2 linked regions of the Homo sapiens genome follow. The protein of the gene in region 2 interacts with the protein of the main gene of each other region in a pairwise test. Each region holds a gene or a part of one and is shown on either strand. Other genes may lie near its edges.

Region 1 (3,655 bases), on a different chromosome or scaffold from region 2:
ACATTCCATGATCCTGTCCTCTCTTTCTCATCTGGAATTTAATTAATTTAATTTTCTTTCCTCTGTAAGGAAGGAAAATGGAGTAGCAGTCAACATTTGAGTTCAGTGATATGTTTGGCACTCTAGTAGGTGCTTAAATAGGTTATTTCATGAGAACAGCCTAAGACATAGACTCAGTCAAGGGAAGCAACTAACTAGTAATTGGCAAAGCCAAGATTTGAACCCAGATCTGAAGCCAAAGTCCATATTCTTCCAACCACAACACACAGTCCTCAAAACTGGAATTTTGGCATCATAGGTTTGTATGTTAACAAACAACACAGCATATCTTCCATCTCACTCAGCAAGTACAGTAAAATCTCATCAATTCAAATTCCAATGTCTAAATTTGTGATAACTCAGAAGGAGATAATGCTAAAAGTTTACCTTTGAAGAAGGTTACTGAGCAAATGTGAGAGCATGAGTGAGATGACATGGAGATGTTTAAGTACTTAGGGAGGTAAACTATTTGTTTCGACTTAGCCCACTGTTAGTAGGAGAATAACCATTGCTCATGGAAATAAGCCTTGCTTATCATTAAAATATTTTAGCAGGACTTCTGGTTAGAAATACTTTGCTAGCAGTTAGTTGGGGTATCTGAATACTGTCAAACAGAACTGCACACTCTAAGTAAACCTTTTCATTAATTTGGATGGGCCTCATAATGAGAAATCAGAATGAGTGAGGTTTAACTGTACTTCAAAATCTACAAATATAGGCTGCCCAAAAGACTAAGGGTGTGCTCGCTGCTTCTTGTAAGTCTCCAGCAGGCAGGAGTTGACGAAAGACTCAATAATCTCTGGACAGAACACATGGACTACTTACAGAATGAGCACTACATGATGACGATGAGGTTTTGGATAATGAACTGCAAGAGGCAGGTCCTCTGATCAGTCTGTTCAGCTGCTCCAACCATTCCTGGAAGTCCTGGTTGTTGTTACAATGGACCACAATTCTCTCCACTGTGTTACCTACATCCCCCAATTATGATCAGTTTGAAAACAAAAGGCAAGGAAAAACTTGAGCTTGTCCCATTCATAAATAGACTTCATACAACTAGGACTTGGGTGTGTATTTTCAGGGGTTTTCATACCTATGGGATAACCCTGCTGAAATTTCTATATCAGAAACAGATAACCTGTGATTACAAAGTAAATAAATATTCATGTCTGATTTAGAAAACTGTCCTTGATTTTTACTGCTTACAGAAGCTTAAAAGTAGTGTAAAACTTCACCATAAACAAACTTGCAATCCAAAAACATAAGCACATAGTCCATCTAGTTAAGTCTAAAGTGGGAATATTGTCCTGGTTCCCCTGGTATCAAAGTTGGAACAAGATCCAACTAAGACTATTTACAACCTTTTGGCAAACACCAAACCTTAAGCTCCTTCTTGGGAAAGAAGAGGGTAAGGCCATGATCCCAGTCTTAGCCACTGTGCCATATCAGCACCAACAGTCAGGCCACTACATATAAATGACACAGACCTGGCAAAAGGGATCATAAGCTAAAATGTCAGGGGGCATTACTGAAGCCTGGCATTATGCTCAATTTGTGAAGAAAATTTGATGGCTTTTCAGAACTTTTTAGAAATACAACCAAATCTTACTAACTCATGGGCTGATGATAAAATTGCTGATAAAAGTCCATATCTTTGGCTCCTCTGCCACCAGGGAACAAATGACAGAGGGGAAGAAAATTGCGTTTACATCAGTCCATTTCGTTATTCCTTAGCTCTCACAAGTAGCTCTCATGCAACAGAAAATTGAAACTAATGGCAAAGCCATGGCTTTTGAATGAGAGGAGACTTCTCTGTGCTATTGCTGTACCCTAATTATCCCAGGAAATGGAATATACTTTGCCATGCCCGCATAAAATTTGCTCGTGGCCTATGTAACAGGAAATAATGGCATTTATTTATTAAATTCCCCTTCATTCCAAAAAGAATTGGAAGTAGTTACATGAAAAAGAGAAAATTACCTACCAGTGATTTCAAATGTGCAGTCATTCCCTTCAATTTCATCTAATCTAGTCACCACCGTTCCTGCTATTGGTATTTTTCCCTATTAGAAAAAGAACATTCTCATTAATTCTGCAGTTATACAGGTCTCTGTTTATTTCACTTAGATTTTCTGACCCTCTCAGCAAGGCAAAACTATGGCTAGACGTATTTCTCCAGTCTGTCAATAGATAATATGTTTCCCTGCTCTAAATTTTAATCAGACTAAGAAAGCAAGGGGAAAATGTGGATTGTGTTTGGCTAACACACCCTAAACTATAAGATCAGGATTTACAAAGCAGTTTACTTTTCTAACACATTTTCATAAGAATCAGTAAAAAAAAGTGAAGGCTCAGATGTTATGAAAATTATTAATTGCCAGGCCAAGATGGAACAGGCAATAGTAACTTATAATACTCTATATGTTGGGAGCTGACTGAGGGACATTTAATTTCCTAAGGAGTTTAATAACATGCTTCTTAGAAGCCTGAATCATGTGCTGTGACTATAATAAGACAAACATAGGAGCAGGTCCCAGCTTTATGTTTTCTCAGCAATAATGACATGGGCCTGTACAATACTGCTGCTAATTTATCTAGTTTCCATTTATGCATGCAAAACCTAGTGCATAACTAAAGCGGTGGATATATTCAAGATAAACTCATTATACTAATACAAAGGTCTTTGATCTAAGGAACATCTGCTCTTACAAGCTCTTTAATTACAATGAAGGGTCAGAACATTCTGGTTCTCCTGGCTTGAGCTTTTAATGCCATAGTGGAGATATTGCATCTGGATGGAAACCTGTTTTCGTTAGGGGGTCTGCTATGTGTTTTATATGAAATTTACTAACCTGATAGATAAAGCCACTCATCCGAGGACTTGCAGATAACATTATCAGGACATTTGAAAATAACATAAGGTACCGCTCCTCTTTTTCCTGAGAGGGAATGAAAATAATACATGAAGAACAGAATTGGACACTTTATCTGTTGAGAATTTCTGGAATCACTGCCTTATAACATAGACCTTATATAAACAACTGAAACATTAACGGTAATTTTTTTTTTAAAAAAGATACCCAACTTGAAAACACAAAACTAGTTGAATTTTACTTTGACATGGACATAAACCCACAGTTTATCTCTCTTCTTCTTATACATAACAATTAAATACAAATAACCATGCTTGCTTTCCATGTATGAAAGCCTGAGAAGTCACCACAGTTTATGCAGCCAGTGAGATGTGCTAGACCTGGGCACAAAATAAGTCTCCAGGTTCACAAAATGAAAATATATTTTACTTTGAAAAAATGGCAAGATGAAGGGGTTTTCAGGTGATAAGAGATTTAGTATGCTCTAACATGTTTGTTAAAGTCGTATTCATAAAATTAGCTTTGGTCATTAAGAACAAGATAATTATTGGATTTATGTAAAACATAAAAGTAGATACACTTTCTTTTTTTTTTCTTGAGACGGAGTTTCGCTCTTTTTGCCCAGGTTGGAGTGCAATGGCACGATCTCGGCTCACCACAACCTCCACCTCCCGGGTTCAAGCGATTCTCCTGCCTCAGCCTCCCAAGTAGCTGGGATTACACACATGTGCCACCACTCCCGG
Region 2 (3,655 bases):
GTATCTGTGAGTCAGATTTGTATAGTTTGCACGCCTCTCTAAGGTAGAAAGATATTTGTGCCTCTGATCTACTGAGCAGTTATAAGCAAACAGAATCAAAGTGACAGATGCCATCTTAGGCCTAGTCAATAGGGCAAAAGGGACATCGAATTTAGAATTAGAATCTAGGTGACAATCTATTACTTGCATGACTTGAGTAAGTTACTTAACCTCTCTCAGCGTCAGCTTCCTTGGGAAGATTAAATGCAGTCATACATCTGCCAGCACTTCAAATTGTCCCTGGTGCACAGTAGGTGCTGAAACAAATCAGCCCCTTCCCCCAGCCTACATTCTTATTCTAGAAGGTGGGGCATGGAAACCTAGAGAGGTGAACTTGCTCAAGGCCATGCTGCTAACCTGGGCTGGTAGAGGTTGCAGAATCCAAGTCCTCCGCCCCCGAGTCCAGTGCTCTAACAGCCCATGTTGTTAGAATGCCAGATGCAGAGATCCTGCCCTGCGGGAAGGCCTGGGAGTCAGAACAGAAAGTTCTGCTCCACGCTGTCTTCCCCTCACATGTTCATGCTCCTGGCCTGATTATATTTCTCTCAGGGAGTTTCCAGTGCTTCTCAAACACCATTTCATTTACTTACTGAAAGCCAGCCTGGCTACAGAAAGACCTAGGTTCAAATTGTGACTCTGCCATGTATTCCACCTGGAAAGTCACTTAAGATGAACTTCATAGGCTTGTAATGAGAATTAAAGAGATCATGGATGCAAAATGCCAAACACAATGCCTGACACACAATGGATGCTTAATTAATGACAGTTCTCTTCTTGTTCTCCCAACATCCTCTACAAGAGAGATCTAGAAAGAAAAACTGTGTTATATGACTATTGGGTGGCTCAAGGACAAAGCTCCACCTAGGGGTTAGAACATTCACTATTTCAGTGGTCTCACCTTTCATCCAAGAAAGAAAAGTACAAGTCAGACTTACAGGGTCTCTACTATATTCCCAGCACTGACCCAGGCACTTTGAAGCTTATTTAGCCCACATGATAACTGCCTGAGGAAGGCACTATTGCTCTTCCCATTTTCAGAACAGGTAACTGAAGGTCATAGAAGCTAATAGTATTGATCTTGATCACCCAACTAATTACTGCAACTTGAGTCCAGGTCTTGATGATCTTCAAGTTGATATCCACTATCCTGTATTGTCCTGAACACCGGAGGGTATAGAGATGACATATGCAGAAGCGTTTTGTAAACTGCGCAGCTCTATGCAAACACAAGATGTTAACTGTTCCCTTTCCCATTTAGTTGAAAAGCTTCAACTGCTCTGTTTCTCCTGAGGCAGTAGCCATCAAGACTCTGGAGGAGGTCATGGAGTCCCAATTTCCTTGAGTTTTAAAACAGAGTTGGGAATTAAGCTCTCTTGGGTTCCCAGGAATGTCACTGGGGAGTCATCCATGGCTTGTCAGATGTGTGACAGGAAGAAGAGGGGTCACTCCATTTTCAGATGGAGCCCTGAGTACTGTATTCACATTTGTGGAAGGGCATGCTTTCAGGTGATAGGATCTGCTGTGTGATGAGAAATGGAAATGAAACCCTGCAGGTCCCCTGAGGATTCAACCTTTCAAACAACTATTGAATTGCTCTTTCCCGGGCCTGTTTGAGCAGGCATTGCAAATCTTAAAAACAATAAGATGAATAATCATCACTGTTTGATCACTGCCATTTATTGAGTACCTTCTCCATGGCAGATGCTAAGATAAGACCTAACATGCATCATCTCTGATTTTACAAGTCTTCGAGGTTGCAGCCATGAAAATGCCCTGGTCAGCCATGATTGACCATGACAGGGGTACTAGTGCAGGCCTGTTCCTGCTGGACATGGAACCCCTCTAATGGCTTAAGGACTCCCACTGGCTGGCAGAAACTTTCTTAGAACAACACTGTAGTCTAAGACTCTTCCTACTGAATTCTCTTTCCTTCTCCCTCTCCTTTCATGGGGGTCAGGCCTGCACTGCAGTCTGGGGCTTCCTCTGCCTACTTCAGTTCCTTCCTGAACATTTTACAGGTGTTTCCCCCAATAATTCTCTTATATGCCTAATCCCATCTTGGTGCCTGCATCTCGAAGGAACTAACACAGTGGACAGGAGTCCCATTTTGCAGACAGACACTGGATCAATGATGAAGTTACTTGTGTAAGTCCTACAGCCAACAAATGTTAAGAGCTGGGGTTGTGTGCAGGTATGTTTGATTCCACAAGCCAAGTCTTAGAAGCATACTAGGCTTCCTCTCTAATGATCTATGCAGGCTTAACTGTGAGGACAGGGAGTGATGACACATTTCAGTTTGGCCCCTTTGTTTTGTCGATGAGAAACCTGAGACCAGTGAGGGAAAGGATTCGCCCATGGGTGCCAGTGGGAGGGGTGCACCTGGGCTGTGCACAGCCATTTCCCTCCTTTGGAGGCTGAGGGAGGAGGTCACAGGGAGGCCTCAGGGTATGGAGGGAGGTCAGGCTGGGGGGCTTAGTGTCTGACCCACCAGCCTGGCAGGCGGGAATGTGCCTGTAGAAGCCCACGGCCCTCTTGGGGAGAAGCCATGAAGTGAGGACTGAGTGCTGCCTGGAGGTGCTGGCTGGGATGCACAGGGAAGAGCTGTCAGGGTATGGGTCTAACACTGGAACAGCTGGGGGACATTCCCTGGATATCCCTGCATTGCCTTGAGGCTCTCCCATCCCTGTTTGATCCGTAAGCTCCAAGGAGACATGTTTCCCAGCCATAATGCCTTCTGATCCCAATCTCTTCTACTCTTTTCATTGGCAAGAGTCATTCTCACCCGGGTTTTCTTATATAATAATTATAAACTCATTCAGGGCCTGTGAGTGAAAAGGCACACATATACATTCAGGTCTAATATTCACTGAGCAACCATCAGCACAATGGTATGTGACCTCTTTGAATGCTGCACTAATGCTCCACTGTCTAGAAGGAGGCCAGACTGCTCTGGGGACCAGGTGCAGAGGGTGCCCTCAAGTGTCTAGTGTCAGAGAGAGAGGGGCTACTCCACTTTGGCCAGGGTGAACTTGAGTTGGTGATGACAAACATCTGCAGCTAGTCTATTTTTCTAATCTCACCCTCCAAACAGCCCCATCTTCTTGCAGGGAGGATGGGTGAAGGCATTTTCAAAAATGGACATCACATGTGACAAACAGGCAAAGGACCCTGACAGAGCCACAAAACTGACACGCTCATGAAAACTCAGACCGCTGACAATGGTGAGCGCCGACCAATTCAGCGCCAGGCGTGGAGGCTTCTGGCAAGAGTGGTGGGCTCTGTGCGTCCTGATGGTGGCAGCAGAGACCAGCTTGGGAGCCACCTGGCTCCTCTGCCCTAGCCCATTATGGCCTGAATCCAATCAATTTCAGTTCTCAGCACTTCTGAAAACGTGCGTGGCTTAGAGTGTCTGGCAGGGCTCAGGAGAGAAAAGCATTTCTCAGCCCCGGGACACATATATGCCTCCAGGCACTGGTTGTGGCTTGCAATCTGGGAGGGCAGGTGAACGGACACCCTCCCTCCTTGCACAGGCCTGGGATCTGCCTTACTCAACTCCCACTTCTACCAGGAGCAGAGGATCACCGCTGCCCAGCACCCCGCCCATCTGAATTCTGAC

The links. Proteins that work in one complex are often made in the same cells at the same time.
Region 1: the proteins of TMEM108 (region 2) and ARHGEF6 interact in a two-hybrid assay, tested with the Homo sapiens proteins (one large-scale study listed by BioGRID and IntAct).

What each region holds. Positions count from the first base shown.
Region 1 is NC_000023.11:136,679,867-136,683,521, forward strand, and holds part of ARHGEF6 (rho guanine nucleotide exchange factor 6), read right to left. Parts: intron 2,979-3,655; coding exon 2,892-2,978; intron 2,103-2,891; coding exon 2,024-2,102; intron 1,011-2,023; coding exon 865-1,010; intron 1-864. UniProt on the Homo sapiens protein: Acts as a RAC1 guanine nucleotide exchange factor (GEF).
Region 2 is NC_000003.12:133,384,327-133,387,981, reverse strand, and holds part of TMEM108 (transmembrane protein 108 isoform 1 precursor), read right to left. Parts: intron 1-3,655. UniProt on the Homo sapiens protein: Transmembrane protein required for proper cognitive functions. Involved in the development of dentate gyrus (DG) neuron circuitry, is necessary for AMPA receptors surface expression and proper excitatory postsynaptic currents of DG granule neurons.